5 linked regions of the Homo sapiens genome follow. The protein of the gene in region 3 purifies or fractionates together with the protein of the main gene of each other region. This does not show direct contact. Each region holds a gene or a part of one and is shown on either strand. Other genes may lie near its edges. The genes, in order: BTN1A1, MTPAP, ATG4A, PACS1 and WDR37.

What was found.
Region 1: the proteins of ATG4A (region 3) and BTN1A1 purify together in Homo sapiens (affinity purification with mass spectrometry; one large-scale study listed by BioGRID and IntAct). This does not show direct contact.
Region 2: the proteins of ATG4A (region 3) and MTPAP purify together in Homo sapiens (affinity purification with mass spectrometry; one large-scale study listed by BioGRID and IntAct). This does not show direct contact.
Region 4: the proteins of ATG4A (region 3) and PACS1 purify together in Homo sapiens (affinity purification with mass spectrometry; one large-scale study listed by BioGRID and IntAct). This does not show direct contact.
Region 5: the proteins of ATG4A (region 3) and WDR37 purify together in Homo sapiens (affinity purification with mass spectrometry; one large-scale study listed by BioGRID and IntAct). This does not show direct contact.

Annotation. Positions count from the first base shown.
Region 1 is NC_000006.12:26,505,295-26,511,330, reverse strand, and holds the end of BTN1A1 (butyrophilin subfamily 1 member A1 precursor), read right to left. Parts: intron 4,649-6,036; coding exon 4,499-4,648; intron 3,382-4,498; coding exon 3,361-3,381; intron 3,271-3,360; coding exon 3,244-3,270; intron 2,831-3,243; coding exon 2,157-2,830; 3' UTR 906-2,156; downstream 1-905. UniProt on the Homo sapiens protein: May function in the secretion of milk-fat droplets. May act as a specific membrane-associated receptor for the association of cytoplasmic droplets with the apical plasma membrane.
Region 2 is NC_000010.11:30,334,079-30,340,114, reverse strand, and holds part of MTPAP (poly(A) RNA polymerase, mitochondrial precursor), read left to right. Parts: intron 1-3,087; coding exon 3,088-3,312; intron 3,313-6,036. UniProt on the Homo sapiens protein: Polymerase that creates the 3' poly(A) tail of mitochondrial transcripts. Can use all four nucleotides, but has higher activity with ATP and UTP (in vitro). Plays a role in replication-dependent histone mRNA degradation.
Region 3 is NC_000023.11:108,138,608-108,144,643, reverse strand, and holds part of ATG4A (cysteine protease ATG4A), read right to left. Parts: intron 1-6,036. UniProt on the Homo sapiens protein: Cysteine protease that plays a key role in autophagy by mediating both proteolytic activation and delipidation of ATG8 family proteins.
Region 4 is NC_000011.10:66,072,354-66,078,389, reverse strand, and holds part of PACS1 (phosphofurin acidic cluster sorting protein 1), read right to left. Parts: intron 1-6,036. UniProt on the Homo sapiens protein: Coat protein that is involved in the localization of trans-Golgi network (TGN) membrane proteins that contain acidic cluster sorting motifs.
Region 5 is NC_000010.11:1,054,042-1,060,615, reverse strand, and holds the start of WDR37 (WD repeat-containing protein 37), read right to left. Parts: upstream 4,232-6,574; 5' UTR 3,648-4,231; intron 1-3,647. UniProt on the Homo sapiens protein: Required for normal ER Ca2+ handling in lymphocytes. Together with PACS1, it plays an essential role in stabilizing peripheral lymphocyte populations.

The sequences.
Region 1 (6,036 bases), on a different chromosome or scaffold from region 3:
AAAGTGCTGGGATTACAGGCGTGAGCCACCATGCCCGGCCAATGCTATTTTTGTGATAGTGAATGAGTGACTAATTATGACATCTGATTGTTTAAGAGTGTGTAGCACATCCCCCGCTCCCCCCTCTCTCCTCCCCCGTCCCTGCTGCTGTCTTCCTTCTGCCATGGCCATGTAAGATGTGCCTGCTTCCCCTTCGCCTTCTGCCATGATTGTAAATTTTCTGAGGCCTCCCCAGAAGCTGAGCAGAAGCTGTCATGCCTACATAACTATGAGCCAATTAAACTTCTTATCTTTTTTTTTTTTTTTTTTTTAAATGGAGTCTTGCTCTGTCACCCAGGCTGGAGTGCAGTGGCGCGATCTCAGCTCACTGCAACCTCTGCCTCCCGGGTTCAAGTGATTCTCCTGCCTCAGCCTTCTGAGCAGCTGGGATTACGGGTGCCTGCCACCACACCCGGCTAATTTTTGTGTTTTTAGTAGAGACGGGGTTTCACCATGTTTGTCAGGCTGGTTTCAAACTCCTGACCTCGTGATCCACCCGCCTCGGCCTTCCAAAGTGCTGGGATTACAGGCATGAGCCACCGTGCCCGGCCTAAACTTCTTATCTTTATAAATTACCCAGTCTCAGGTATTTCTTTACAGAAATATGAGGATGGACTAATAAAAAATTGTTCCTGAGTTGAGATTCTGTATTCCTGCTTGAAGACCCTGGTAAGCAGTTGTTCCCTCATGAGGCATCAGCCCCCATGTGCACCTGCCCTGGTGAGCCCACTGCCATCAGGCCTAGGGATGGGTCTTAGACCACATACAATGGCAAAGCTTTAGACAGCTGCATTCCCATGCAGGTTTCTTGCCCTATGTTTTATTTTGTTTCAGTTGATATTAAAAAAGAAAGGTTAAGAGGTTGCTTTCAGCAATCAGACAAACTTATTTATTAGGTAAAGACGATGAGCAACGTCTATCCTGGAAACTGGAGAATACGATGGAAATGGAAGGTATAAGCCTGGAGTCTATTGGCAAGACAAGCCACATGTGTAAAGGAAAGTGCTCAGGGGCAAATACACAGGTGCAATCAGTCCAGCTGCACTGAACACAATGATGCAGCATTCAGGGGACCCTGAGGAGAGGCAGCATGTAGGAAAGCTGGGTAGGGAAAGTGAAAGGTGCACAGTGTGGAAACGGAGGCAGTTGAAGCTAACTGAAGGTGTGTGTAAGGGGTTTGGGCATTGAGATGAGGGCTGAGGTGACATAAGGTTGAGATGGTGACTGAGCAAGTGGTGATATCACTGAAGGATGACTTCTAGGAATGTCTTTGAAATAGAGAGATGCTATAACAAAAAGAAGAGGACAACTGGAAACTTGTGGATCAACAAATTGAGGGTGGAATGACTTCCAGGCAAGGGAGAAACAGGAGGGCGCAGAGAAAGGAACAGGGTACAAAGAACAGCTGTGCAAACAACTTTTGAGTTTTGTCAAAAATTCTCTCCTCTATCACGCTTTCTGCCTGACCCTTCATCCCTGCTCATCTCAGTTCCTCTCTGCTCTCCCTTTTCCACAGCTCAGACCCATAGAAGTGGGGCCAGTCTCCTCTGTCCTATAGGACGTGGCTTAGAAAATTTGCGATATAGGCTGTGAAAACTCTATGGATGAGCCAGGTGTTCATCATGTGCCTGGATTCACCTCACTTCCCTCCATCATAATATTCCCTCCAAGTTCCTTTATGGGATTTCAGCCTGAGATTGTCCTTTCACAGCACATTTTGAATTTTCCACTTGCCTAAAGCCTGTTTTTCCACATACCCTTATCCTGGATACCAAGATATTTCAACCACAACCCCATGCTAACCTGACCCAATCTCGATCCCTAATCTGTCCTTTGAGTTTGCTCCAAGTAGTTTCCTATAGGTTCTAGTCTTAAGGGATTAGGAGAACACTAGAAGCAGTTTGAGTCACCCCTCCATCCCCCAAATATTGGTACAGAAACAGATTTGGAAGGTGCAATCCCCACCCTCTCTAGCAGCAGCAATGTAACCTTCACAGGATTAATTAATTGCCACCCAACAGGAAGAAACAGACTGGGTAAAGCTAGCAGGTGAAGCCTCAGAAGGCTATGGAGGAGAGGGGTTAGAGGAAAGGAAAACAGATGAGCTGAGATATTCCTTAAGGTGCCCCTTGGCTGGGTTGGGTAGGGATTAGCTTAGAATGGAGAGTGTCTGCATCCCTAGGGGCAGAGTCCTCCCCCATGGGGGACAATGGGATCTCCTTAGAAAGGTCCTGGGCATTAGCAATGACTGTGACCCTCTCAGGCCCATCAGCAATTGGGCAGATGGTCAGGGGCTTTTTACCGCTAGACCATAGGCAAAAGAAGGGCCGGAGGGGGCCAGAGAAAGTGACATTGGAGAAAGTATAGATATCAGATCCATCATTCATGTTGTAGAAGGAGATGTCTCCTGATTCATAGTCTAGGAAAATCCCAACCCGGCGTGGGGGCCCTGCCAATGGGAGAGGGGTCCGGAGAGGAGTGAGGGCCCAGTACCCATTTCCATACAACTCTACAGCCCAGAACCCATTCTCAGGAGTCATGGGGTCAAATCCTTTCTTCATCACATTCTCCCTACACACGCCGATTGCCCAGTCAGTCCTGTCTCCCACCTCCACCTCCCAGTAATGCCTTCCTGAGGTGAAGGTCTCACGGCCCAACACACAGGGCCAGGAGTCAAATCTCTCTGTTTTCTCAGGCAGTTTCTGACGTGAATCTTCCAGTCGAACAGATTTTGAATCCTCATAAAGAAAGAGGTGGGGATGAGCTGTGTCTGGGTCCAGAGTCACATCAACTGGAGAGAAAGAAACAGCAGGTCTGACATCAGTGAATATTACAGGTTGCAGGACTGTCTTTCCTTCTCCTAAGAAACAGAACACTGTTGTAGGAGTTGACAGGTCTTCTGGAGGTGGGGGGATGTTTGGCCTGCTCAGGGGTCTCCATTCACCACAGGATCCCCCCTTACCAGCAGCCAGAGGGTGATGTAAGAGCTAACTGTGCCTAGGGCCTAATGGGACTCTGTCGGAAGTGCCATCTTCCAAGGGTTCTCTATGTGCCTCACAGAAACTGTTGAGGCCATCTGTCATCACCGTTTCCCTTCCTGTCCTCATCACTAAAGTGTTAGTGTTTTCATTTCCAAGTATCATAGCACTTTGAATTCCTAGGGGATAGAGCCTCAGAGCCCTAGAGAAGTTCAGAGCCACTGACCTGCATGCAAGGTAGCCTTTTTCCATTCTGCAACAAAAGAGAAAGATAGTCATTGACAGGTTATATAATAAGAGAGAGAAAACTCTGTGGGTGAAATAACAAGAAGACAGAACTTACTGAGTTCTTCCAGGAGTCTCTCTGGAAAACAAACAAAAATACCTCAATGGCTTTCTATAGTGGACGTAAAGGAGGGGACAAAACTCGTGTGGGAAACACACAAAGGAGGAACTGTTTAATTCATGACTATTTGAATATTGAAGCATTGCCAATAAATCAAGAACAAGGATTTTGTTTTGCTTTGTTTTCGAAGAAAGATGCAGGAAGTTCCTACATATTGGAACTGGCTTGGGATCAGATTTTTTTTTTATAGAATCTCATTCTGTTGCCCAGTCTGGAGTGCAGTGGTGCAATCTCTGCTCACTGTAACCTCCATCTCCCAGGTTCAAGCCATTCTCCCGCCTCAGCCTCCCGAGTAGATGGGACTACAGGTGTGGGCCACGACCCTGGCTAAATTTTGTATTTTCATTAGAGACGGGGTTTCACCATGTTGTCCAGTCTGGTCTTGAACTCCTGGCCTCATGTGTTCCACCCATCTCGGCCTCCCAAAGTGCTAAGATTACTACGGGCATGAGCCACTGCGCCCGGCCTCAGATCTTTAATAATAAGATTGGTACTGGGCAATTGAGTTAAAAGTGGGAGTAGGGTCTGAGGGTGGGTAGTGAGTAAACATCAGCCCTGATATCTTGATTAGACTCTGCCTATGCCCCAATCCTCTGTGCTTCTTCATATTGGCATCTGTGACTTCAGGACCCTTATGATTTCCTCCAATTTTCAGAATTCTAGAATCAAGTATCTTCTACTTTTTTTGAGACGGAGTCTTATTCTGTCGCTCAGGCTAGAGTGCAATGGCACGATCTCGGCTTACTGCAACCTCCACCTCCTGGGTTCAAGCAATTCTCCTGCCTCAGCCTCCCGAGTAGCTGGGATTACAGGCACTCACCAATAAGCCTGGCTAATTTTTGTATTTTTAGTCGAGATGGAGTTTTGCCATGTTGGCCGGGCTGATCTCGAACTCCTGACCTCAGATGATCCACCTACCTCGGCTTCCCAAACCGCTGGGATTACAGGCGTGAGCCACCATGCCCAGCCTCAAATATCTTCCTGTCATCCTAAAATAAGTCATTCTAAAGGACTTGGATCCAGCCTGCCTCTGAAGCACTCCTGACACGTAGCCCTTGTGGATTCTATGGTTTACCTTTAGAGCTGAATTCATTCCTCCTCTCTCTGGGTCTTTCGTTGTATAGTCTCCAAGTGAAAAATATGGACCCAATGGTGAGAAGTCCTAGAACCATCAGGATGACAGCCACAGCCACTATCCAGGGAGTCAGCCTTGGGAGGGAGGAAGCTAAAACAAAATCCCCAAGAAGGACATTAGTTGAGAAATTCTGAGCAAGTCCAGCTTTTCTCCACATTCCAAAGGAGGGTAGAAGAGGTGATGGCCTGGACCACTCTCATCCCTCATATAGCAAAAAAATAGTCACTCCAATGCCACTCTAAACTTTTCAGAAAAAAATTGACTTCAAGCAGGAGTCAGCAGAGAAAGAGAGAAATGACGAGTAATTTTGGGACAGGACCTGTGAAATAATAAATATAATGGACCAATTCATGTCATTATGGAAATTCTTCCTTAACTATCAGTGCAGAATGGGAGCCAAGAGGATGAAGGAGGTAAATAAGGAAGGGGAAGTGTGCCTCTGTATGTAACAGAATGGGACTCATTGACCAAAGAATAAGGAAAGGTTTCTGCCTGAACCAGAGACAGTATCTGGGGAATAATGAGAGGATTTTCTTCCCTGAGGACCCTGGAAACCTAGACAGAGCCCTAGCATGGGATAGGAAGGAGAAGTGAGTATGGGTGGAAATGGCAAAAGTAGAAAAATAACTTAGTCTTTTTTTTTTTTTTTGAGATGCAGTCTCGCTCTGTCACCCAGGCTGGAGTGGAGTTCAGTGGCGCAATCTCAGCTCACTGCAAGCTCTGCCTCCCGGGTTCACACCATTCTCCTGCTTCAGCCTCCCAAGTAGCTGGGACTACAGGCACCCGCCACCATGCCTGGCTAATTTTTTTGTATTTTTAGTAGAGGCGGGGTTTCACCATGTTGGCCAGTATGGTCTCGATCTCCTGACCTTGTGATCTGCCTGTCTCGGCCTCACAAAGTGCTGGGATTACAGGCGTGAGCCACCACGCCCGGCCAACTTAGTCTTTTTGTTTACTTGAGGAGAGAAGGCTCTGGATCAGGAAGGCCTCCAGGGACAAAGCTTCTCTATCTCACTTAGATCTCCTGAAATGGAAAATCTGGAATTTCACTGGGTGTGATGGCTCACACCTATAATCCCAGCACTTTGGGAGGCCGAGGCAGGTGGATTGCTTGAGGCCAGAAGTTCAAGACCAGCCTGGGGAACATGGTGAAACCCTGCCTTCGCTAAAAATACACAAAATTAGTTGGGCACGGTGGTGTGCACTTGTCGTCCCAGCTATTCTGGAGGCTGAGGCAGGAGAATCGCTTGAACCTGGGAAGCGGAGCTTGCAGTGAGCTGAGATCATTCTGCTGCTGCACTCCAGTCTAGGCAACAGAGTGAGACACTGTCTCAAAAAATAAATAGATAAATAATCTGAAATTTATTTGAGATCAAGGTAGGTTTATGTCTTCAGTATCTTAACTCTTCTAATAAAGTTGGTGGGGTTCCCTTAAGTCACTGGAAAAGAGCTTAGGTGGGGAAAGTAGACAACTCTGC
Region 2 (6,036 bases), on a different chromosome or scaffold from region 3:
GTTTTACAAGGTGAAAAGAGTTACGGAGATGAATCGTGGTGGTGGATGCATAATGAGATGAAGGAAAGTTTTTTTCTATTTCTAGCTTTCTAAGAATGTCGTCATGCTCAACACATTGAGTAGATGTTGAGTTTTGACATTTGAGATGGTATTGATGACTGGCATATGGTCTTGAGATTGTATATGGTTCCTAATGTCTTTTTCTTTCCCCTCCTAATGTCTTAACGTAGTGAATTGTAGATTCACTGTAGATTTCCTCATGTCAAGTCATTCTTGCATTCACAGAATAAACCCTACTTAGTCAAGGTGTATTTACAAAAATGCATTATTACATTTGTCGTGCTAATATTTTTATTACAATTTTAATATCTCTATAAATAAATGGGATTGCTTTTAAAAATTCAAACTACAGGATATGTTGAATGAAAAGTGATAGTAATCCTTGTCTGCTCCTTCCCCGCCATGCCCCATTTGTACTTACAGGTAACCACATTCTTCTGAAGTTTTCGGCCTTTTGAACAGTTTAGGTTTTCTTTCTCTTTCCAGCATAATGACATAAAATTGTACATGGTTTTCTGTCAATTTTAAAATGTCTTCTTTCTGATTCTCTCTCTCTTTTTTTTTTTTTTTTTTTGAGATGGAGTCTCGCTCTTGCCCAGGCTGGAGTGCAGTGGCATGATCTTGGCTTACTGCAACTGCTCCCCGATTCAAGCAATTCTCATGCCTCAGCTGCCCAAGTAGCTGGGACTACAGGTGTGCACCACCACACCCAGCTAACTTTTGTATTTTTAGTAGTGACGGAGTTTCGCCACTTTGGCCAGGCTGGTCTCGAACTCCTGACCTCAGGTGATGTGCCCACTTCGGCCTCCCAAACTGCTGGGATTATAGGTGTGAGCCACTACGCCCGGCCCAAGATTCTGTCTCTTCTGTGTTCAAATATTGTTTGTATTTGTCTTGGTGTTTTTTTGTTTGTTTGTTTTTGTTTTTGTTTTGAGACGGACTCTTGCTCTGTCGCCCAGGCTGGAGTGCAGTGGCGTGATCTCAGCTCACTTCAAGCTCCACCTCCTGGGTTCACGCCATTCTCTTGCCTCAGCCTCTCAAGTAGCTGGGACTACAGGCGCCCACCACCATGCCCGGCTAATTTTTTGTATTTTTATTAGAGACGGGGTTTCACTGAGTTAGCCAGGATGGTCTCGATCTCCTGACCTTGTGATCCGCCCGCCTTGGCCTCCCAAAGTGCTGGGATTATAGGCGTGAGCCACTGCACCTGGCCTGTCTTGGTGTTTCTTACTCAGACTTGCCAGACCTTGCTAGTCTTTCCAAAGAATCAACTCATGGCTTTATTTATCAAAATATTATTTTCAAGGTTTAATTTTCTAATAAGAAAATTTTTGCTTCTAATCTATTTCCTTTACTTTTATTGTTATTATTATTATTTTGAGACAGAGTTTTGCTCTTGTTGCCCAGGCTGGAGTGCAATGGCCTGATCGTGGCTCACTGCAACCTCCGCCTCCCAGGTTCAAGCGATTCTCCTGCCTCAGCCTCCCAAGTAGCAGGGATTACAGGCACGCGCCATCACACCTGGCTAATTTTTTGTATTTTTAGTAGATTTGGGGTTTCACCACGTTGGCCAGGCTGGTCTCTAACTCCTGATCTCATGTGATCTGCCTGCCTTGGCCTCCCAAAGTGCTGGGATTACAGGCATGAGCCACCGAGCCCGGCCTCTTTTATTATTTTTGAGTTGAATGCTTAGTTCAGTTCAGTTCAGTTATGTTACGTTATGTTATGTTATGTTAATGTTATGTTGTTATGTTAATGTTATGTTGTTATGTTATGTTATGTTACGTTATTTTTTGAGGTGGAGTCTTGCTCTGTTGCCCAGGCTGGAGTGCAGTGGTGCAATCTCAGCTCACTGTAGCTGCATACTCCTGGACTCAAGTGACCCACCTCAGCCTTCTGAGTAGCTGAGACTACAGATGCATTCCACCATGCCCAGCTAGTTTTTGTATTTTTTTTTTTGGTAGAGTCAGGGTTTCATCACGTTGCCCAGGCTGGTCTCACTCCTGAGCTCAAGCGATCCTCCCGCCTTGGCCTCCCAGTAGTTCACAGGTGTGAGCCACTGTGCCCAGCCAGTTGATATTTTCAATGTTGGTTTCAAATAAGAGCATTTGAAGTTACGATTTTTTTTCACTTCAGATACTCCAGTACACAATTTCAGTATGTGATCATTTTAATGCCAGTCTTCTAGTGGATAGACAGGATTGTTATTCTGAGAAACTGAGAGGTCTTGGGCCTTCATTACTTGAGTATTTCTAGTTTTTCTTGCCCTTTAACATTGGTCTTTCATCCCTTTGAGTTTAAAATGTCTAACGTGGTTGTTTTAACCTCTTCTGGAGTACTTTACTACTTTCATTTTCTTAAAACAATACTTTATACTCATCGCTTACAAAGTTTTAATTCTAGCCAACTTTCATTTTGCTAGTGGCATTCCTCAGAGCTTTTTAAAAATTTTAAAATATTATATAATTTATTTCTTTAGTGAAATAGAGACGAGGTCCTGCTGTGTTGCTTAGGCTGATCTCAAACTCCTTGCCTCATATGATCCGCCTTGGCCTTCCAAAGTATTGAGATTACAGGCATGAGCCACCGCGCCTGGCCTTCTCAGTGGTTTTTAAAGAGTATTTTTTTTTGAGACGGAGTCTTGTTCTTGTTGCCCAGGCTGGAGTGCAATGGTGCGATCTTGGCTCACCACAACCTCTGCCTCCTGGGTTCAAGCGATTCTCCTGCCTCAGCCTCCTGAGTAGCTGGGATTACAGGTATGCGCCACCACGCCCGGCTTATTTTGTATTTTTAGTAGAGATTGGGTTTCTCCATGTTGGTCAGGCTGGTCGCGAAATTCCGGCCTCAGGTGATCCACCTGCCTTGGCCTCCCAAAATGTTGGGATTACAGGCGTGAGCCACTGCGCCAGGCTTTGCATATTTCTAAGGTAGGTCTTCAACGCCACCAAATCTTTGAAAGTAAAATGGTAACTTTTTATGCGACCTGTACTTTTTCTCTATTTTGTTGGTTTTGTTTCGGCTAGCTAGATAGACGATCAGCTGAACACTCTCTTGAAGGAGTTCCAGCTAACAGAGGAGAACACTAAGCTCCGATATCTCACCTGTTCTCTTATTGAAGACATGGCCGCCGCGTATTTTCCAGACTGCATAGTCAGACCCTTTGGCTCCTCAGTCAACACTTTTGGGAAGTTAGGATGTGATTTGGACATGTTTTTGGATCTAGATGAAACCAGAAACCTCAGCGCTCACAAGGTAAGTCTATTTCTTTTGACCACTATAATCATGTAAAGTTAAGAAAGTATAAAAAGAAAAATCTTTGAACTTAATAAAATAGAACTGTTGATTTCTAAACTTATTAAACATTGTGGTTAAAGAATAAGGTGTATTTGTTATTGATTCTTTGGTGAAGTCTTTCTTTGTATTGTTCTACTATGTGATCATTTTTGTGAATATTCTGTAGATATGCAATCAAATAGTTAATTGTTTTCAAGTGTTCAGAAATTTTTCAGTTAAGTCAAAGTTACCTATTGTGTTATTCAAATTATGTATCTTAACTAATTTTTTCTTTTTAATCTTGTGATCTAGTTACTGAGATGTTTTTACATCTCATGATTCTTGGTTTTGTTAATTTCTCTTTAAAATTCTTTTGATTTTTGTTTTATCCAAAGGCTATATTAGCTACATATAGGTATACGATCATCATATTTCCTTATTAGATTGTTTTATTATTATATCCCTCATACATGCTTTATTCATCTCTATAAATACTTTTTTCTTAAGTTCTATTTTATTTGTTAATATGGCCGCTTGGTAGTTGTCTCACATGTCTTCTGTTTCTTTATTTTCAGCCTTTATATATGTTATTTTAGTTTGGGTGTATCTCTTATAAATAGCAGTATGCTTTTACTCCAGTCTATCAGTCTTTGAGTTCAATATGTTTATTGTTACTGCTGATAATTCTTGGACTAATTTCTCCTGTTTTATTTTTTATTTCCTATTTTCTGTGCTTTTGCTTTTCACTTTCTTTTATTTATTTATTTTTTTTGAGGCTGAGTCTCACTCTGTCGCCCAGCCTGGAGTGCAATGGTGCAATCTCGGCTCACTGCAACCTCCACCTCCCGGGTTCAAGTGATTTCTCCTGCCTCAGCCTCCTGAGTAGCTGGGATTACAGGCGCCTGCTACCATGCCCAGCTGATTTTTGTATTTTAGTAGAGACGGGGTTTTACCTCCTTGGTCAGGCTGGTTTTGAACTCCTGACCTCAGGTGATCCACACCCCTCGGCCTCCTAAAGTGCTGGGATTACAGGCATGGGCCACTTCCCAGCAGCTTTTCACTTTCTTTCTTCCTTTTATTGGATTACTCCTGCTTTATTCCTGCACTTTCCTCCTTACCCTTTTTTTCTCTTTCAAGTTTGGATATTATTTCTTCCATTTATGTTCTCTTTAACACGATGTCTAATGGTAAAATTAACCAGTGTCTCTTCCATCCTCCCAAACAATATAAATGATGTCTTAATTTAATTACAGTGTTGAAAAGGCTATTTATTTTTATTTTTATTTTTTTGTTGGAGATAGAGTCTCTTGCTCTGTTGCCTAGGCTGAAGTACGGTGACGTGATCTAGGCTCACAGCAACTTCCGCCTTCCAAGTTCAAACAATTCTCCTGTCTCAGCCTCCCAAGTAGCTGGGACTGCAGGCAGGGGCCACCATGCCCGGCTAATTTTTTTGTTTTAGTAGAGACAGGGTTTCACGTATTGGTCAGGCTGGTCTTGAACTCCTGACCTCAGGTGATCCATCCACCTCAGCCTCCCAAAAGTGCTGGGATTACAGGCGTGAGTCACCACACGCGGCCAAGGCTATGTGTTTTTATAAAATGTTTAGTTTCTATGGCTGTATCTTTCCTTACATCTTTCAAACTAGTAGTGAACATCAGACTTTATGTGGATGTCCAGTTGATATTTCAAACAATATTTTGAGACAACTTATATTCATCTTCCCACAAATGTTCTTTCTAAGTTCTTACAAAAGTTCTATATGTTTCACATGTTAATTAGTGGCATTTTAGCTTTGCTAACCATTCTTTTAATTCTGCTTCTAAGTTGTTATCTTTTGTATTCATAGTTTCACAGTCCCTTATAAACTCTCACTTAGATTATTGTAACTACATTCTGTTTCCACTTCTTATTCCTTGTGTCATGCCTTGATATTTTAACCTTCAGTCTTTGTTGGAGTTACCTTCACTCACAGTTTGAATTTTCCCACAAAGTTAGAATGCTTCTTTTCTTTAGCATAGTATTGAAATCCTCTGTGTCTTAATTAATTTTAGTCATCATTTCCCATTATATATTGTTACATACCCAATTTTCCAACTACATTGTTTTTATTTTTCTTTTTTTAAGACGGAGCTTCACTCGGTCACCCAGGCTGGAGTGCAGTGGCATGATCTTGGCCCGCTGCAGCCTCTGCCTCCTGGGTTCAAGTGATTCTCCTGCCTCAGCCTCCTGTGTAGCTGGGACTTCAGGCACGCCCCACCACGCCCGGCTAATTTTTGTGTTTTTAATAGAGATGGGATTTCGCCATTTTGGCCAGGCTGGTCTGGAACTCCTGACCTCAGGTGATCCACACACCTTGGCCTCCCGAAGTGCTGGGATTACAGGCTTGAGCCACCATGCCCGGCCCCAACCACATTGTTTAATTACCATTTCCAGTAATAGAAGGCACTTGTAAATATCATAATGATCAAACAGTTGTTCTGTGCCTTCACTCAGGAGTGCACTTTCCCTCCATTCCTCGACTCATTCCTAATGCAGCTTTCAAGGTCTAGTTCTAATTCTACCTTCTTGAAACCGCTCTTGATTTTTTTCTCCACTCCAGCCAAAATTAACCACTCCTTTTTTGTAGTATCTTGCAGGTATTTCTATCTGTCTCCAAATTTCTTCTGTCATGTTTAGTGAGTAGCTGATGTATGTATCTCCCAC
Region 3 (6,036 bases):
TCAAGTAGATAGGATGACCCATTCTGTGGATACCACTCAGCCTCTTTCCCCAGCCACCCATGTCATCACCCAATGGGCCCATGAACAAAGTGGCCATGGTGGCAGGGATGGAGGTTACACACGGGTTCAGCAACATGGACTTCCACTCACCAAGGCTGACCTGGCTACAGCCCCTGCTGAGTGCCCAATTTGCCAGCAGCAGAGACCAACACTGAGCCCTCAATATAGCACCATTCCTCAGGGTGATCAGCCAGCTACCTGGTGGCAGGTTGATTATACTGGGCTTCTTCCATCACGGAAAGGGCAGAGATTTATCCTCACTGGAATAAACACTTAGTCCACATATGGGTTTACCTATCCTGTATGCAATGCTTCTGCCAAGACTCCCATCCATGGACTCACAGAATGCCTTATCCACCTTCATGGTATTCCACACAGCTCTGACCAAGGCACTCACTTTATGGCTAAGAAAGTGTGGCAGTGGGCTCATTCTCATGGAATTCACTGGTCTTACCATGTTCCCCATCAGCCTTATCCAACATCATGGTATCCCACACAGACTCTGACCAAGGCACTCACTTTATGGCTAAGAAAGTGTGGCAGTGAGCTCATTCTCATGGAATTCACTGGTCTTACCATGTTCCCCATCAGCCTGAAGCAGCTGGATTGATAGAATGGTGGAATTTCATTTTGAAGTTACAATTACAATGCCAACTAGGTGACAATACTTTGTAGGGCTGGGGCAAAGTTTTCCAGAAGGCTGTGTAAGCTCTGAATTAGCATTCAATATATGGTACTCTTTCTCTCATAGCCAGGATTCACAGGTCCAGGAATCAAGGAGTGGAAGTGGAAGTGGCACCACTCACCATCAGCCCCAGTGATCCACCAGCAAAATTTTTGCTTCCTGTTCCCCCGACATTACGTTCTGCTGGCCTAGAGTTCTTAGTTCCAGAGGAAGGAATGCTGCCATCAGGAGACACAACAGTTCCATTAAACTGGAAGTTAAGATTGCCACCTGGACACTTTGGGCTCCTCTTCCCTTTACATCAACAGGCTAATAAGGGAGTTACAGTGTTGGTTGGGGTGACTGACTTGGACTATCAAGATGAAATCAGTCTACTACCCCACAATGGAGGTAAGAAAAAGTATGCATGGAATACAGGAGATCCATTTGGGTGTCTCTTAGTATTACCATGCCCTGTGATTAAGGTCAATGGGAAACTACAACAGCCCAATCCAGGCAGGACTACAAACGGCCCAGACCCTTCAGGAATGAAGGTTTGGGTCACTCCACCAGGAAAAAAAACATGACCTGCTGAAGTGTTTACTGACGGCAAAGGGAATACAGAATAGGTAGTAAAAGTAGGTAGTCATCAATACTAGCTACGACCACGTGACCAGCTACAGAAACGAGGACTGCAATTGTCATGAACATTTCCTCCTTCTTTTGTTAAAAATATGTTTGTGCATGTATACACTTGTACTAAGAAAATATTCTCATTTTATTTCCTTTCTCCTTTATCATGTGACATAAGATTTATTGACTTCACATCAGCATTTAAGTATTATTAAGTTCATGTAATAGTATTTGGGTTGGGGATTGGTGCGTTTCCAGTTGTACGAAGGATAGTTGTATTATGTTAGGCAAATTATGACCTTATTATTGTCTTTATCTGAAGATGATGTATGATCTCAGGATATGTATATGGGTTCAAGTTGACAAGGGGTGGACTTGTGATGGCTAATACTGAGTGTCAACTTGATTGGATTGAAGGAGACAAAGTACTGATCCTGGGTGTGCCTGTGAGGGTGTTGCCAAAGCAGATTAATATTTGAATCAGTGGGCTGGGAAAGGCAGACCCACTCTTAATCAGGTGGGCACAATCTAACCAGCTGCCAGGGTGGCAGGCAGAAAAATGTGAAAAAGAGAGATGGGCCTAGCCTCCCAGCCTACATCTTTCTCCATGCTGGATGCTTCCTGCCCTCAAACATCAGACTCCAAGTTCTTCAGTTTTGGAACTCAGACTGGCTCTCCTTGCTCCTCAGCCTGCAGATGGCCTATTGTGGGACTTTGTGATCATGTGAGTTAATACTTAATAAACTCCCCTTTACATATATATGTGTGTGTGTGTGTGTGTATGTATGTTATATACACACACACACATATATATATTCACACATATATATGTATATATATTCCATTAGTTCTGGCCCTCTAGAGAACCCTGACTAATACAATCTGTCTCCCAGGCTGGAGTGCAGTGGCACAATCTTGGCTCACTGCAGCCTTGACCTCCTGGGCTCAAGCGATCTGCTTGGAAGCGATCCCCATCCCAGCCTTCCAAGTAGCTGGGTCTATAGGCATGCGCCACCACATCCAGCGAATTTTTTGTATTTTTGGTATAGACGGCATTTCACCATGTTGCCCAGGCTGGTCTCGAACTCCTGAGCTCAGGCGATCCACCTGCCTTGGCCTCCTAAAGTGCTGGGATTACAAGTGTGAGCCACTGCGCCTGGCCACAAGCTGCCACAAGCTGCATCATTTCTGAGAGTGCTTATAAGAGATATAGTACACTTAGGATAATGGCCTCCAGCTCCATCCATGTTGCTTCAGAGGACATGATTTCATTACTTTTTATGGCCACATAGTATTCCATGGTGTATATAACACATTTTATTTATCTAATCATCATCCATTGGGGTACAATGCTCAATATTTGGGCGACAGGTATACTAGAAGCCCAATCCACACCATTACACATGTAATAGCCATGTAACAAACAAACACATGTACCTCCTGAATCTGGAACAAAATTTTTTAAAAAAAGATATACAATAGATGTAAAAAGCTCTAGAAATGATCTGGGGACTAAACAAAGGTCTCCAGTGAGACCTGGAGTGAAAAGGCAGGCTGACCAACCACCTGCAGAGACAGGGCTAATGCTATGGATCTCCAGGTGGAAACCTATACCCAAGTGCAAGGAACCAACATCTCCTTCTCTCTAAGCAGGCAAAATTTGAAGGCCAGAGTGTCATCCTGGCCATATCCTCCCACACCTAGAGCTCTCTCAGCTTCCCACTGGGCAGGAGGGCCCTGGGGGAGCAATGGAAGGTGGTAGGTAGAGATGATCAAATTGGGATCGACTCTTGGCTTCACCACTTTCTAACAGAATCACCTTGAAGAAATAACTTTTTAATCTCTCTTAATTTTAGCTCTTAGTTTCACTGCATGTAAAACAGAAATAACAGTCTCTACCTCACAGAAATATTGTGTGTATTCTTGATTAATAATCAAGTAGATAGGATGACCCATTCTGTGGACACCACTCAGCCTTTTTCCTCAGCCACCCGTGTCATCACCCAATGGGCCCATGAACAAAGTGGCCATGGTGGCAGGGATAGAGGTTACACATGGGTTCAGCAACATGGACTTCCACTCACCAAGGCTGACCTGGCTACAGCCCCTGCTGAGTGCCCAATTTGCCAGCAGCACAGACCAACACTGAGCCCTCAATATGGCACCATTCCTTAGTGATATATATATATATATATATATATATATATATATATATGTATATATATACACGTATATATGTATATATATGTATATATGTATATATATGTGTATATATACGTATATATATGTATATATATACGTATATATATGTGTATATATGTGTATATATGTATATATGTGTATATATATGTATATATATGTATATATGTATATGTACATGTAATACTTTGTGTATGTATTTGTATATGTAATACATTATATATATAAAATGTATATGTAATACTTTGTGTATGTATATGTAATACATTTTATATATATTTTATATATACATTTATGTTATATATTTATATATTATTTTATATATACATTTATATATACAATGTATTTTATATATACATTTATTTATATATACAATGTATTTTATATATACATTTATACATTTTATATATTTGTAAAATGTATATAATACTTTGTATATGTATATGTACGTATATGTAATACATTTTATATATATATTTTATATATATAATGTATATATATGTATATATATGTATAAATGTGTGTGTGTGTGTGTGTATATATGTGTAGACAGAGAGATAATATACTTTGCGAAGTCTCTGGAACAGGACAACTATTTAGAAAATGGCAATTTGCATCTCTTCCCTCCCTTCAGACATTCTGCCAATCTGGACCACTCAACCTCAAACAGTAAGGGTGTGAGTCAGAAAAGGGGAGTCAGAGGGACTTAAAGCCCTCAAGTGAAGTTTGCACAAAGGACTTATAAAAGTTAACAGGCAAATGGGCACTATGTGAACCTCTGTCTTGGGGTATTAAAGAACTGAGGATTGCCCACATCTTTTTAATGAGTAGTCAAACTTCACAAAAGCTACTCTGACCCAGTGGCCTCAAGAAACAGGAGGGCTACATCAACTTGGAGAAATTCTCTGTAGGTAACTTGGGATAGGGAGGCCAGGGCACCCAGGAATCACACACACTATTCACTGAGATTCCTCCAAAGTTATTTTCTAATCTGTTTCAAAGCTGTCCTCAAACACTGTTGTGGACTGAATGTTTATGTCTCCCTAAAATTCATATGTTGAAATCCTAACCCCCAGTATGATGGTATTAGGAAGTGGGGTCTTTGGGAGGTGATTTAGTCATGAGGGTGGAGCCCCTATGAATGTATTAGTGCCCTCATAAAAGAGACTCCAGAAAGCTCCTTTGCCTCTTCTACCATTTGAGGACGCAGCAAGAAAACAGCCATCTATGAACCTGGAAGTGGGCTCTCACCAGACACCAAATCTGCCAGTGCCTGGATCTTGGACCTCCAGCCTCCAGAACAGTGAGACATAAATTTCTGTTGTTTATAAAGCCACCTAGTCTATACTATTCTGTTATAGCCGCCTGAAGAGACTAAGTCATGCATGAGCAACTGGAAATCTATTTTTTGCAACATTTTCTTTGAACCCAAATGCTTAGGAACAGAGGGCATCTGATTTTGCAGAACTCCAAACACTAGGTTTTATACTTAGAAAAATAAAAGCCTTTACAGGCTCCACGTTTTCCATTTAGCTGTAATTCTTGGGCTCAACCAATAGATGGCAGCATTAGAGAGAGCAGAGGCAGCTGTGCAATCCCCACGCCCCGCTCCACACCCCCCAACCTAAAGAGAGGAAGAAGGGGCTGGCAAAGGAAATAGGTATTGGGGTAAAGCAAGGTGCAGCCACCTTTCAGTGACTGTCCTATATGCCTGGCTCTTTGATGAACACTTTACTGTAAGATGACAACAGGGCGAGTCAGGCATTAGCCCTATTTTACATAAAAGGAACCTGAGACTGAATATTGATATCTTTTTCCTGAAGTCACACAGCTAGCAAGTGGGGGATTGGCATGCAAAGCCACGTGTGTCTGTTCCCATCCCACCTCACCTCCCTGAATGTCCAAGAGGAGATGTGTTGGGGAGGATAACTAAGGCCATCTCCACCCTGTCCTTTGCACGTGCCCTCATGCCATTCCCTTGTAACTCCTGTAGCTCTCCTTTGTCTGTCAACCAATCTGACCTCATAACTTTCCTGAGGCCAAGTCTCAGACCATTCCACCCCTGCAACAGGTGTCCTGTACCAACTTTTCCTGGCCACATCACTCTCTAACTTATGCTCTTCAACACTAACCAGGTGTTTAGGCCCTGGGTATGCAAAGTGTGGTCTGTGGACCAGCAGCATCAGCACCACCTAGTTAGAAATGCAGAAACTCAGGCCGCACCCAAGACCTACTGAACCTGCACTCCAATAGGCTCTCAAGGTGATTCATGTGCATGCTAAAGCTTCAGAAGCACTAGGCTAGCTTACCTTGTGTACCAAGGACCTCAGATGTCTCTGGTCACAGCTAGTGAGTAAAGAGACTGGGTTTCCAGAGGTGCCTTCCTATGCAGGGAATGTTGGGTTGCTTGCTCGGGTCCACATTAAGAGGTTAGTGGTTTTAAGGCTTAGCCCCCATTCTCGGGAAAGGGGTACTTCTGT
Region 4 (6,036 bases), on a different chromosome or scaffold from region 3:
GAGGAGTTACACAGACTACAAAGAAGGGAACAGGTGTTACAGTAGGGAGCAAATTTAAGGCGTCACTCCTTTCACATCTACCTATATTTATACGAGGTCACTAAAAAACATACACAGCAAATTACCCACATCACAATTTCTAAGACGCATACAGTTCTAAAAAGTGTTTTTGCCAAAATGACCTGTGGATACCACTGTATTTACAAAACTAAAAGTACTGAAAGTGTTGAAAGGATGAAGGGAGCCCAGGTTGATCTGAGAGTGGACACAGATCATTACTCACAAGGAGAAAAGAGGAAGAACGATATTTGAGATTCAGAAAAATTGTTGAAGCTAGCACTAAACTCAAATATTCCAACCTTTGTTGTACCTTAAAAACCTTACAGTTGGCCAGGCATGGTTGCTTACAACTGTAATCCCAGCACCTTGGGAGGCTGAGGTAGGTGAATCACCTGAGGTCAGGAGTTCGAGACCAGCCTGGCCAACATGGTGAAACCCCGTCTCTACTAAAAATACAAAATTATCCATGCATGGTGGTGCATGCCTGGAATCCCAGCTACTCGGGAGGCTGAGGCAGGAGAATTGCTTGAACCTCGGAGGCGGAGGTTTCCGTGAGCCGAGACTGCGCCTTTACACTCCAGCCTAGGTGACAAGAGCAAAACTCCGTCTCAAAAAAAAAAAAAAAACAAACTTACAATTTAAAAGGATCTGCACAAAATTAAATAAACAAACCTGCCATCAACACTATTTTATCACCTATGCCTCACCATCTACCTCAACACAAGGAAAGTAATGACTTAGAACATTCTCTATTCACCCATTTTTGTTTGAGACAGGGTCTTACTCTGTTGCCCAGGCTAGAGTACAGGGGCGAGATCATGGCTCACTGAAGCCTCGACCTCCAGAGCTCAAGTGCTCTTCCCACCTCAGCCTCCTGAGTAGCTGGGACCACAGGCGCACGCCACCACACCTGGCTAATTTTGTTTATTTTTTGTGGAGAGGGGTTGCCATGTTGTCTAGGCTGGTCTCAAACTCCTGGGCTCAAGTGACCCTTCCGCCTCAGCCTCCCAAAGTGCTGGGATGATAGGCATGAGCCACCACGCCCAGCCTTGGAATGTTTTAATAAACTATTTTCTAGAAGTTTTCTAGATGTGTTTCATTGGTTAGCTGTCTGTTCTACTGCGATTCCCAAGGTCAAGAGGCAGGGTGCAGGTCTGCCTAAGTGGCGATCCCTGAGTTGTGACCAAAGCCATTCTCTGGTTTTTAATGAGATAACGGGGAACACAGGTCCAGCTGACTGCCCTGTGAACATCTATAAGGGGTAACACTCTAGAGCTGGTGCATATCTTGGTCTCTAAAACCTTTGGAAGCTGGTTATTCCTCTATCTAGGTCCACAAAGAAGACCCTGTCAGTGCTTGCCAACCTAAGAGACTGCCCACCTTGCTTGATGGCCCTCTGAAAGAAGTTCTAAGTCCAACTCCAAACTCTGACTTTCCTCAAGAGCCCTCAATATCACCTCAAGCCCTGTGCTGGAAGAAGACCAACGTTGGCAAATCATTCCCACAGCTACGCTAGATTCCCACGGAATTTCCGGAATGTGACAACATGGGTGCAAGCCAGGCCAACACCAAATTTCAGAGGACCCACCATGTAGATGCATGCTGGCATCTACATCAACACCTTCAAGTCCAGGCCAGTCCAGGCACAGTGGCTCACATCTGTAATCCCAGCACTTTGGGAGGCCGAGGCCGCCGGATCACTTGAGGTCAGAAGTTCGAAACCAGCCTGGCCAACATGGGGAAACCCCGTCTCTACTAAAAATACAAAAATGTGCTGGGTGTGGTGGCGTGCGCCTATAGTCCCAGCTACCTGGGAGGCTGAGGCTCAAGAATCCTGGGAGGCGGAGGTTGCAGTGAGCCGAGATCGCACCATTGCACTCCAGCCTGGGCAACAGAACAAGACCCTGTCTCAAAAAAAAAAAAAGTCCAAGTCCAAACTGGACAAGCCTCCTGAACTGAGGTAGTGAAAAGACGCAGCTCTAACATTTTCTGAGGCGTACCCGCCCTCATTCCAGCACCTACAACAACAGTGACAACTTACTGGCTTAGCTAAGAAATTGGAAAACTAGTTTAGAAAGAAATCACATAACCGCTAAGGTGTCCAAAAGATCTGTAAATCAATACATGTAAAATGGACTCTGTGAAAGTCATTATCTTTCTAACTCATGTAATCTGAGCTTCCACAGGGACGATGGATACTATTACCCTGATAGAGATGATATTCTATTACAACACTCACAATGTGAAATTCAAATCTCCTAAGGTACAAACATGCTTTTAAGACTTTTAATGTGGCTGAGCGCGGTGGCTCACGTCTGTAATCCCAGCACTTTGGAAGGCCAAGGCAGGTGGATCACGAGGTCAGGAGATCGAGAGCATCCTGGCTAACATGGTAAAACCCCGTCTCTACTAAAAATATAAAAAATTAGCTGGGCGTGGTGGCGGGCACCTGCAGTCCTAGCTACTTGGCAGGCTGAGGCAGGAGAATGGCGTGAACCCAGGAGGCAGAGCTTACAGTGAGCCAGATCGCGCCACTGCATTCCAGCCGGGGGACAGAGCGAGACTCCGTCTCAAAAAAAAAAAAAAAAAAAGGACTTTTAATGCTAGGGTAGTAATAGAAATTTCATCAGGTCTTTCTTATTTGATCAATTACATTTACTTTATACCTATAATTTAAGAAATACTTTCTCCCATGCTTCTATAGATCCAATTTTATATATATTTCATCCACATCTAAGAATGGATGGTAAGTAAAAGTATTCCCATAAAGATGAAAAAACTAAGGCATGGGCCAGGCACAGTGGTTCACACCTGTATCCCAGTACTTCGAGAGACTGAGGCGGGAGGATCACTTGAGCCCAGGAGTTCGAGACCAGCCTGGGCAACACAGCAAGACCCCATCTCTACAAAAAAATCTTAAAATCAGCCTGGCATGGTGGCAAGTGCCTATGGTCCCAGCTACTCAGGAGGCTGAGGTGAGAGGAATGCTTGAGCCCAGGAGGTCTAGGTTGCAATGAGCCGTGATTGTGCCACTGCACTCCAACCTGAGTAAAAAAGCAAGACTGTGTCTCAAAAAAACAAAACAAAGGCTGGGCATGGTGGCTCACGCCTGTAATCCCAGCACTTTGGAAGGCCAAGGCGGGCAGATCACAAGCTCAGGAGATCGAGACCATCCTGGCTAACACAGTGAAACGCCATCTGTACAAAAAAATACAAAAAATTAGCCAGGTGTGGTGGCAGGCGCCTGTAGTCCCAGCTACTCGGGAGGCTGAGGCAGGAGAATGGAGCGAACCTGGGAGGCGGAGCTTGCAGTGAGCCGAGATTGCACCACTGCACTCCAGCCTGGGCGACAGAGCGAGACTCCATCTCAAAAAAAAAAAAAAAAAAACACCAAAAAAAAATTAATAAAATTAAACTAATGCATGGAAGAGTTTGTCCTAGTATATAGTAAGAAGATAGAGTAGTATATCTTGGCTCGTATAGTGCTTCTGTGGTTAAAGGGGCAAATGCCCCCAAGCGTTTTCATGAAAGTAACACTTCTGCTGCAGACCAGTCATGCCAACTCAGCTATGGCCACCTTCTGTGATTCCAACGCTTTTGTCCATTAAGGCTTGACCTCAGCACCCACTTAAAAAAAATGTGACCTAAGGAGAAAAGTGACTGATAACTGCCAACTCCTACCCTAAGTTCACATACACATAAGGGTATGCAAATGGGCTTTGGATATGGTTTGCGAATGATACAGCAGAGCACATTTCATCTCTTAATAATCACTTTTATGCCACTGAGGAAATTTTGAATGCTTGTAAAATTTAGTAATTTTTCTGCCTCTCCTACTTACAGCAACACAAAAAGAAAAGAACATCAGGGAAACCTCACCATACAAAGGCAGAAGGGAAGGGATCAACAATGAGGCTCTAACACCCTTCCTTTAACATCAAGCAGCATGCCACCTGGTCCCCATAACCCTGCACCACGGTCCATGCCATACTGGACCATAGTAGAGGAAGTACTACTTAGCATGAAGGGAAAACAATGCTAACTTCTAAAGCTTGAATTTCATAAAAGATAAAGGAACTATAGCAAAACTACCTTTTTGTAACAGAATCTTAAAAGCCAACTGTATTTCACAGTGATTACCTCTGGGAAGTGAGAAGAGGGATGGACTGGGGGCTTTTTCCTTTGTGCTTTCCATCTTTCCATACTGCTCAAATTTCTAATCATGGACATATATTAATCATTTTGTCTTTAAAAAAAATGCTGGTAAAAGGCTGGGCACAGTGGCTCACACCTGTAATCTCAGCACTTTGGGAGTCCGAGGTAGGAGGACAGTTTGAAGCAAGGAGTTCAAGACCAGCCTGGGCAACATAGTGAGACCCTGTTTTTAAAAAAAAAAAAAAAAAAAAAAAAAAAGCCAGGTGTGATGTCACATGCCTATAGTCCCAGCTACTTGGGAGGCTGAGGCTGGAGGATTGCTGAGCCCAGGAGTTGGAGGCTGCAGTGAGCTATGACTGTGCCACTACACTGTAGCCTGGATGACAGAGCAAGACTCCATCTAAAGAAAAAAAACAAAAAATGCTGGTGAAAAATGTGATCAACAGAACAATTTCATTCTTTTAAAACCAGCTGTGAGTAAGCTATTCACCTATATAAAGTTTTTCAAAAGTACTATGTATTCTGGGGGAATTTAACAGATGTTAAATAAGAGCAGACACCTACCTGAAGAACAACTACACTGCTCTTTATTTAAATATCTAATACAGGAAACGGTATTTTTTTCAAAAGAAAATTATATTTTGACAGGCATCAAGAAAAGCAGCAGGACCTTCCTAACACTGTACTGTTCGAGCCCCTCTTCTCTGCCCTAAGAGACCAAATCCCATGACATTCTTATGCACACCTAACCTTAGATCCACAATCATGTTTACATTTCTAAGGGGCATGTATCTCATATATTTGTGTCCCGTTTGAGTTACATGAGACAAGAATGTTAATCCCTCCACAGAGTGCTGCATGTTGCCTATATATTCTAAACAACATGAACAAGGACACCCAGGAGACCTCAAATTAACCAGATGACTCTAATAATTGGAAAGACCAATGGCAGGCCATTTTCTCCCCACAGAGTGTTATTCTGGCCTGCAAAATGCTCAAAGAGCACATGTGTTCCACAAGGAGTGAGGAGGTACAAGGGTGATGGATGAAAAACAATGTCGGAGCAGGACAGTGGACAAGCTCAAGGACTGGTCAGTAAACGTGACGTAACTGCACACTCCCGGAATGTAAAAATAAGTCCGCCTAAGCCTCTCACAGCAAGTTAGCATAATAATTATACATTTGATCAGGATGCCTGGCTGTTTCTTAGGCTAATAATTTATTACGTGGACTTTGCAGTGACCAAAAGACCTAGGGGCAGACCAAACATCAACAGCAGTCAATGATTTCATTCACGCCCCTCTGCTGCAGCTCCTTGCCAGTAGGCTCGCGCCTTTTCAACCTAACGAGATGGAGAAGGCAGCTGCCCAAACGTCACCAAACACAGGCATGAAAGTGAAGGAGAAATGGGAAAGACTGGACCCACGTAGGAAGGAACACAGTGTTTCTATGTGTGAAAGAGGTGGGTTAGGATACTTCAGCGATAGATGGGCCTGTATAGAAAGAGAGAGGCCTGCTTAGGATCAAGAGAGGAACACCATCACATACTCAACTCTCGCTTGAGCTTGGTGTTGTGCTATGGATCTGGCCACAGCAAACTAAATTAATGTGGCTCCTGATTTCCCTAGAGAAAGGACAGAGAAAAAAAAAACAATGTGTAAATCTGTTAAGTGATGTGGAAACACAGAGTGGAAGCAGCCTGTGGAAACAATCTACTTTTGCCTAGTGAAGTCCCAGATCTATACCCTGCGAGCGGCAATCCCACCCCTCCATATGAATACAACCTAAAGAAACTTCTGCACAAGAGCACTAGGAGTCCTG
Region 5 (6,574 bases), on a different chromosome or scaffold from region 3:
CACTGTTTTACCTAAATACAAGCAAAGAGAAACCTGAGATTCCAAAACGTAATTATTTTCCTTCAAAATATTCACATTTACCCAATATTATTGGACAGATTACCATATTACAAAGAAGGCTTATGGAGATTAAATGTCCTTCTGGTTTTCAATAAAACATTATTTTCAAGAAACTATAAATAGTCCCCTCTAAAAATTCAATCTCTTTATCCTACCATGGATTTAACAGAATAAACGCTCCTTCTGAACTCCTGACTCATTTAGTCTGTCCAGTTCACCTGCCCTTAGTATATGTTGCCGTGTACGTAATACACCCCACTGCTTGTAAGCAGTCAGAACAACAGGCACACAGCTGTGATGCAGCACAGTGCTCTACACACAGCAGGCACTGGCCAAACATTCGACTAATTAATGAAACCCATAAACACACTGTGTTAGCAAGCTGAATTCCTCATCTTTAGAAATGCTGTAATATTGGGCCAGGCATGATGGCTCATGCCCGTAATCCCAGCCTTTTGGGAGGCCCAGGCAGGCGGATCACCTGAGGTCAGGAGTTTAAGACCAGCCTGGCCAACATGGTGAAGTCCCGTCTCTACTAAAATACAAAAATCAGCTGGGCGTGATGGTACACGCCTCCCATCTACCCTGGAGGCTGAGGCACGAGAATTGCTCCACCCTGGGAGGTGGAGGCAGTGGTGAGCTGAGATCATGCCGCTGCACTCCAGCCTGCGTGACAGAAATGCTGTAATATTAAACAGCATCAATGAACACTTAGCTTTCTGCTCTTTCTCAAAAGATTCTTTTATATATATATTTTTTGAGACAGAGTCTCGCTCTGTCGCCCAGGTTGGAGTGCAGTGGCGCGATCTCGACCCACTGCAACCTCCACCTCCCGGGTTCAACCAATTCTCTGCCTCAGCCTCCTGAGTAGTTGGGGTTACAAGCACCCACCACCACGCCTGGCTAATTTTTTGTATTTTCAGTAGATACGGGGTTTCACCATCCTGGCCAGGCTGGTCTTGAACTCCTGACCTCATGATTCACCTGACCCAGCCTCCCAAAGTGCTGGGATTACAGGCATGAGCCACTGCGCCTGGCCAGATTCTTTTCAATATTTCCAATATTAATTAATTTGTAGCTATAGAAATTATCATTCTCCTAAGTGTGTATAATTTGAGGAAGGCAGATAACATAACCAAAGTAGCTTGAAACAGCAATACGACAAATTCTTTTCTTTTTGACACAGAATCTCGCTCTGTCTCCCCAGGCTGGAGGGCAGTGGCGTGATCTCGGCTAACCGCAACTTCTGCCTCCTGAGTTCAAGTGATTCTCCTGCTTCAGCCTCCTGAGTAGCTGGGACTACAAGTGCCCGCCACCATGCCCAGCTGATTTTTGTATTTTTAGTAGAGACGGGACTTCACCATGTTGGCCAGGGTGGTCTTGGACTGCTGACCTCAGGTGATCTGCCCACCTCGGCTTCCCAAAGTGCTGGGATTACAGGCATGAGCCACCACGCCCTGCCAACAAATTCTTAATTTACACTTTCATTTGAAACAAAAAACACAAAACATTACTTTCAGTTTCATATCCAGTAGGATTTTAAACATTTTTCTTTCATCAAAGCAAAAACACTTGCTTAAGTGGTTAATTTCACAAATGTTAATCACATGCAAAAGAATGGTTAAGGAATATAATGTCCATGTGGCATTAAAAATAAATTGGAGAAATAAATTGAAAATTGCATAAAATGTGATGGAATTTCCACCAGAAGTTTAATCAAGTTTGTAGTAACATTTTATCGTAATAACACTGTTAGACGAATTCCTAGTGGGCTGAGACACCAAATTCAACTTCTGAGCAATATCGAGGAAGAGAATGGTCTCTACAGGCAACCTCAGAAATCTGTCATCAGTATTAACCTGCTTAAAATGTTTTGTCATTGACGAAATGAAGGCATGGAATACATACACCATCAATTCTGTGGATGACAATCAATTAGGAAATACCATTAATCAGATAAATAGCCATCAAGATTTTCAAAAGATCTCAGTAGTTAAAAGAACAACTTTAAACCAAGGATGAAATTCAACAGATGTAAAATCTTTTCCCTGAAAAGAATAAGACAGGATAAATATGAAAACTCTATCTTAGTTTCACCTTGGGGAAAGGGACTTAGGGATTTTAGTTCAGGGCAAATGCCCAAAGTGAACAGCCTAACATAGCTACCCAAAAAGAGGAGGAGGGAAACACACTCACTCAAGATCTCCTGTATACAGCACTTTGCAAAAATGGCTGGCATATATTACATAACGTAACCTTCCCAGTAAGAAAATGAGGCTGATATGAACACCATGTTAGAGGACAGGGAGTCGGGACTTAGGAAGGCCTTGCCCAAGGTCACACTGCTGTTGAGACGTGGCCAGTGCACACGAGTCCCTACTCTGTCTCCTGTGAGCAGTATTAATAGAAAGGCAGCGTCTAAACCCAGGGGATAACAGATCACTCCATTTGTTCCACATTGGTGAGTTCATATTTACATACCGTGTTTAACTCCTGGGACATATCAAAAGCTATTTTGAAAGACTCGAATTTGATCAGGAAAGTAACCAGAACAGTGTGTGTGTCTGCTGGGGTTGGGGGAAGTTCAGAAGACGAAGAAAGTTCCTGGAGATATAACTATCTTGAGCTTTCTCATTCAGAGGTAAATAATTCCTGCAATACTTTTATGACCGTAACTCACAGGCCAACATACTGAATTTAAGAGAAAAACACTTGAACTTCAATAAATGAAACTTCCAAGCAATTAACACTTTTCTATAATGGTATCCGCTTCAAGGGACGAATGTTTTAGCGTTTAAGTTAAATGACAAAATCTCTAAAAACCTGGCAGACCTTAAGCTATTTTCACTCACAACCTGGAAAAATGTATTTATTCAACTTGGTTTAGTAAATGAGTACATTATTATTGTTGCTCTTGTGTTATTCCGGTGAACAGCTGTCTTAAAATGTTTCCCTCCAGCGGTGGCTGCTTTCAGGGGGAAGGGAAGGAAAAGGAAGTCTTCAAAAGGGGAACAATATCATGGCGCTGTGTTAATCACTTCAGCATCCGTCACTCCACACTCACCACCCTTCTTGAAGCCGACCATCCCCACTCTTTGGAGAGAAGAAAGGCCATTCTCCTCTCTGAAGGGCCTCCCAAGTGCTTCCCTGGAGACGCACTTCCCCGGGATGCCCAGGCCGAAGCAAAGGGGGCGGGGAGAGACCCCGGGCCGAACCCTTCTGCCCCCAACCCCTCCAGCGCCCCGACTCTTCCTGGACTCCGACATCTTCTGCACCGCCCCGGGCCCCCATCCCTCCCGCACCCTGGTCCCTCTGGCACCGCCACGGACTACTCCTGCGCCCCGACTTCTCTTGCACCCTGAACCCTTCTGCACCACGGCCCTTCCTGCACCGCCACGGGTCCTCCAGGGACCCGACCCCTCCTGCACCACCACGGACCCTCTGCATTCCAAGCCCACCTGCACCCCATCCGCCACTATGCCCCGACTGCCCCTGCACCCCCTTGAGCCCTGCAGTGTCCCGACTCCTCTTCGGGGCATCCGGGGAACGACTCGGCGCCTGACAGGTAGGAAGATGGCGGCACTCACCTGTCACAGCAGCTGCGCCCGCCACCCCCGGAGCCAGCCCAGGTCGCGCACCGCCAGTGAGTCCCTACGACGCGGCCCCCCGTACTGACCCGAAGACGCGCAGGACACCGCTGTCTCCGCACTGACGCGACCCCACAACCCCAACCTGGCGCTAATGCACTTCCGGTGTCGCCGGAAGTCCCGCCCCAGTCCCGCGCCGCTGGGTTCTCCGGAAGCCGCCCCACACCTCCGCCCCACACCCGGCGGCGCCGGAAGTCACGCCCCGGCTTCCGCCCCGCAGCCCCGAGGGGTCTGGGCGCGCTGAAGACCCCTTCGGCTGCTGGGCCAACGCCCCCACCCTTGGTCACGTACTCCTGCCGCCGAGCGGTTCGCGGGAGGTGGCCTCGGGGGTCGTAGCTACTCACCGGCGGGGCGCTCCGAGTCCATCTGCCCCGTAGCCCGGCAGCCGGGGCGGGAGGGCTGCGAGCCCGGGGCGCGGTCCGCCTGAGGCCTGAGACCCGGGGCCGCCTGCGCTCAGGGCCGCGGTGCCGGCCGCGCGGGAGCCTGGCGGGGACGGCGCGGTCAGTGTTCGGCTCCTCCGCAGTGACTCACCAGCGTCCTGAAGCTTTTGATCACCATTGGCTGGGAAGGAAAAACAGAATCAGCTGTTCCCTGCGAAAGGTGGGACTTGGGCCGCTTTTTTCTTAGAATCTAGGTTGGAAACGTCGCATGATGGTCTTTACGTAAACAGCCGTCTCAACGCTCTACAGAAAGCGCTAACCGCGCATTTGAAGCCCACCTAGAGTAAATCAAGAGCGTGAAAGCATTTTTTTTTTCTGTGTAGGTTAACATTCCTGCTCCTTCCTTTAAAAAGGAAGCTCAAGGCCAGGCGCGGTGGCTCACGCCTGTAATCCCAACACTTTGGGAGGCCGAGGCCGACGTATCACGAGATTAGGAGGTCGAGACCAGCCTGGCCAACATGGTGAAACCCTGTCTTTACTAAAAATACAAAAACTAGCCGGGCGTGGCGGCGCGCGCCTGTAACCCCTGCTACTCGGAAGGCTGAGGCAGGAGAATCGCTTGAACCCGGGAGGCGGAGGTTGCAGTGAGCCGAGATCGCGCCTCTGCACTCCAGCCTGGGACAGAGCGAGCCTCCGTCTCCAAAAAAAAATAAGGAAGCTCAAGATGAAGAGTCAGAAGTGGTAACTTGTTTGTTGCACAAGAAACAAATTTAGCATTCTATTTAGGGGATCCAGATTACCAAAAAAAAAAAAGAAGTGAAGTTATTTCTGCATTAAGTATATTAATAAAACTTTATCACTAAAAACAATTCTGTAAGAGGAACGCCAAGGAAAAAAATATTTGAGTTTTTAGAGAAGTCATTTTTTAAACTTTTAGAGGTTGTGACATTTAAGTAACATAATTTTATTTAGTACCTAGTATGCAAAGACATTGTACTGGGCATGGCAGCAAATAGAAAGCTTTGTAAATCGCAGTGTCCCATCTAATTAACCCGCATTCTAACAGGTGGTTTTATTTTTCTGGACCGCACCACAGTCAGGTAACACCAAGAATATCGCTAATGTAATTTTTTAAGTTGATATATTTAGGATTCCATAAAAGTCACTGAAAATAACTGAGAGCATGACATGTCACAAAACAAGGGAAAGAAATCATTTTGAGGATCAGTCGCTTTACATCTTTTGTAACTAATTTAATCCCCAAAGGAATCCAATAAAGTAAAAGTTATTCTAAATTGAATTTTAAGCATGAGAATGTGGAAATTACTCGTCAAAAGTCAAAAATAATCGTGCAGCAGGGCAAAGACTAAAGGCTGGCATCAGAATCCATATTCTTTTCACTGTTGATGTGCTAGGGCTGCAGGAACAAAATACTGCAAACTAGGCAGCTTAAACAAATTTATTGTCAGAGGTCTGACTGGAAGTCCCAAATCAAGGTATTGGCAGGGTTGATTCCTTCTGAGAGCTGTGATGGGAGCCTGTTAATGCATCTCAGCGTCTAGGCATTCCTTGGCTTGTGGCAGCATGCCCCCGCCAGTCTTCACATGACGTTTTCCATGTCCGTGTCTGTCTGCACACTTAGCGTTCTTTTTATGAGGACATCAGTCATATTGGAGTACAGTAGACGCTACTTTAATATGACCTCATGTTAACTAATCATATCCACAACAACCCTGTTTCCAAATAAGGTCACATTATAAAATACTGGAAGTGAGGTCTTTAACACATGAATTTGAAAGGGGGACACAATTTAACCCATAACACACTGTATCCTGAAATAACTATCCAATGTAATTTTTTTAAAAGACACAAAACTAGCCGAAATTATAAAAGGTTATGATTGCAATCCTGGTATCCAGTTACATTCTCCCTCCTGCAGAAGCTGTGGAGAATCCTGTCTCAGAAAACCAATTTCTATTTTGTCACATGTCCATCTATGCAAAATACATGTACTTTGTCCCTGACATAGGGCAACAATGCTGAATTTACTAAGACTCATTTTTGCGCATGGTTTGATAGGGAATTAAGATTTACTAGGTATTCTGTCATTGTCCTCATTACTGATTATTTTAACTGTGTCTCAAACACTTGGATAGTACACTATAGTGTTATAAGCTGTTTGACATGTCGCTTCCTAAATTCTCAAGTTATATATATGTGTGTATATATGTCATGTAACAGGCACAACTGTTTTCATGTGTATCACTTTATTGCACTTCACAGGTATCATATGTTTCTTACAAAGTGGAGGTTTGTGGCAGCCCTGCATGGAGCAAGTCTGTCAGCACCATCTTTCTAACAGTATGTGCTCACTTCATGTCTCTCTCACATTTTGGTAATTCTTGGAATGTTTCCGTTATTAAATCAGTTATAGTGATCTGTGATTAGTGATCTTTGATATTACTGTCATAATTGCTTGGGGGGCAC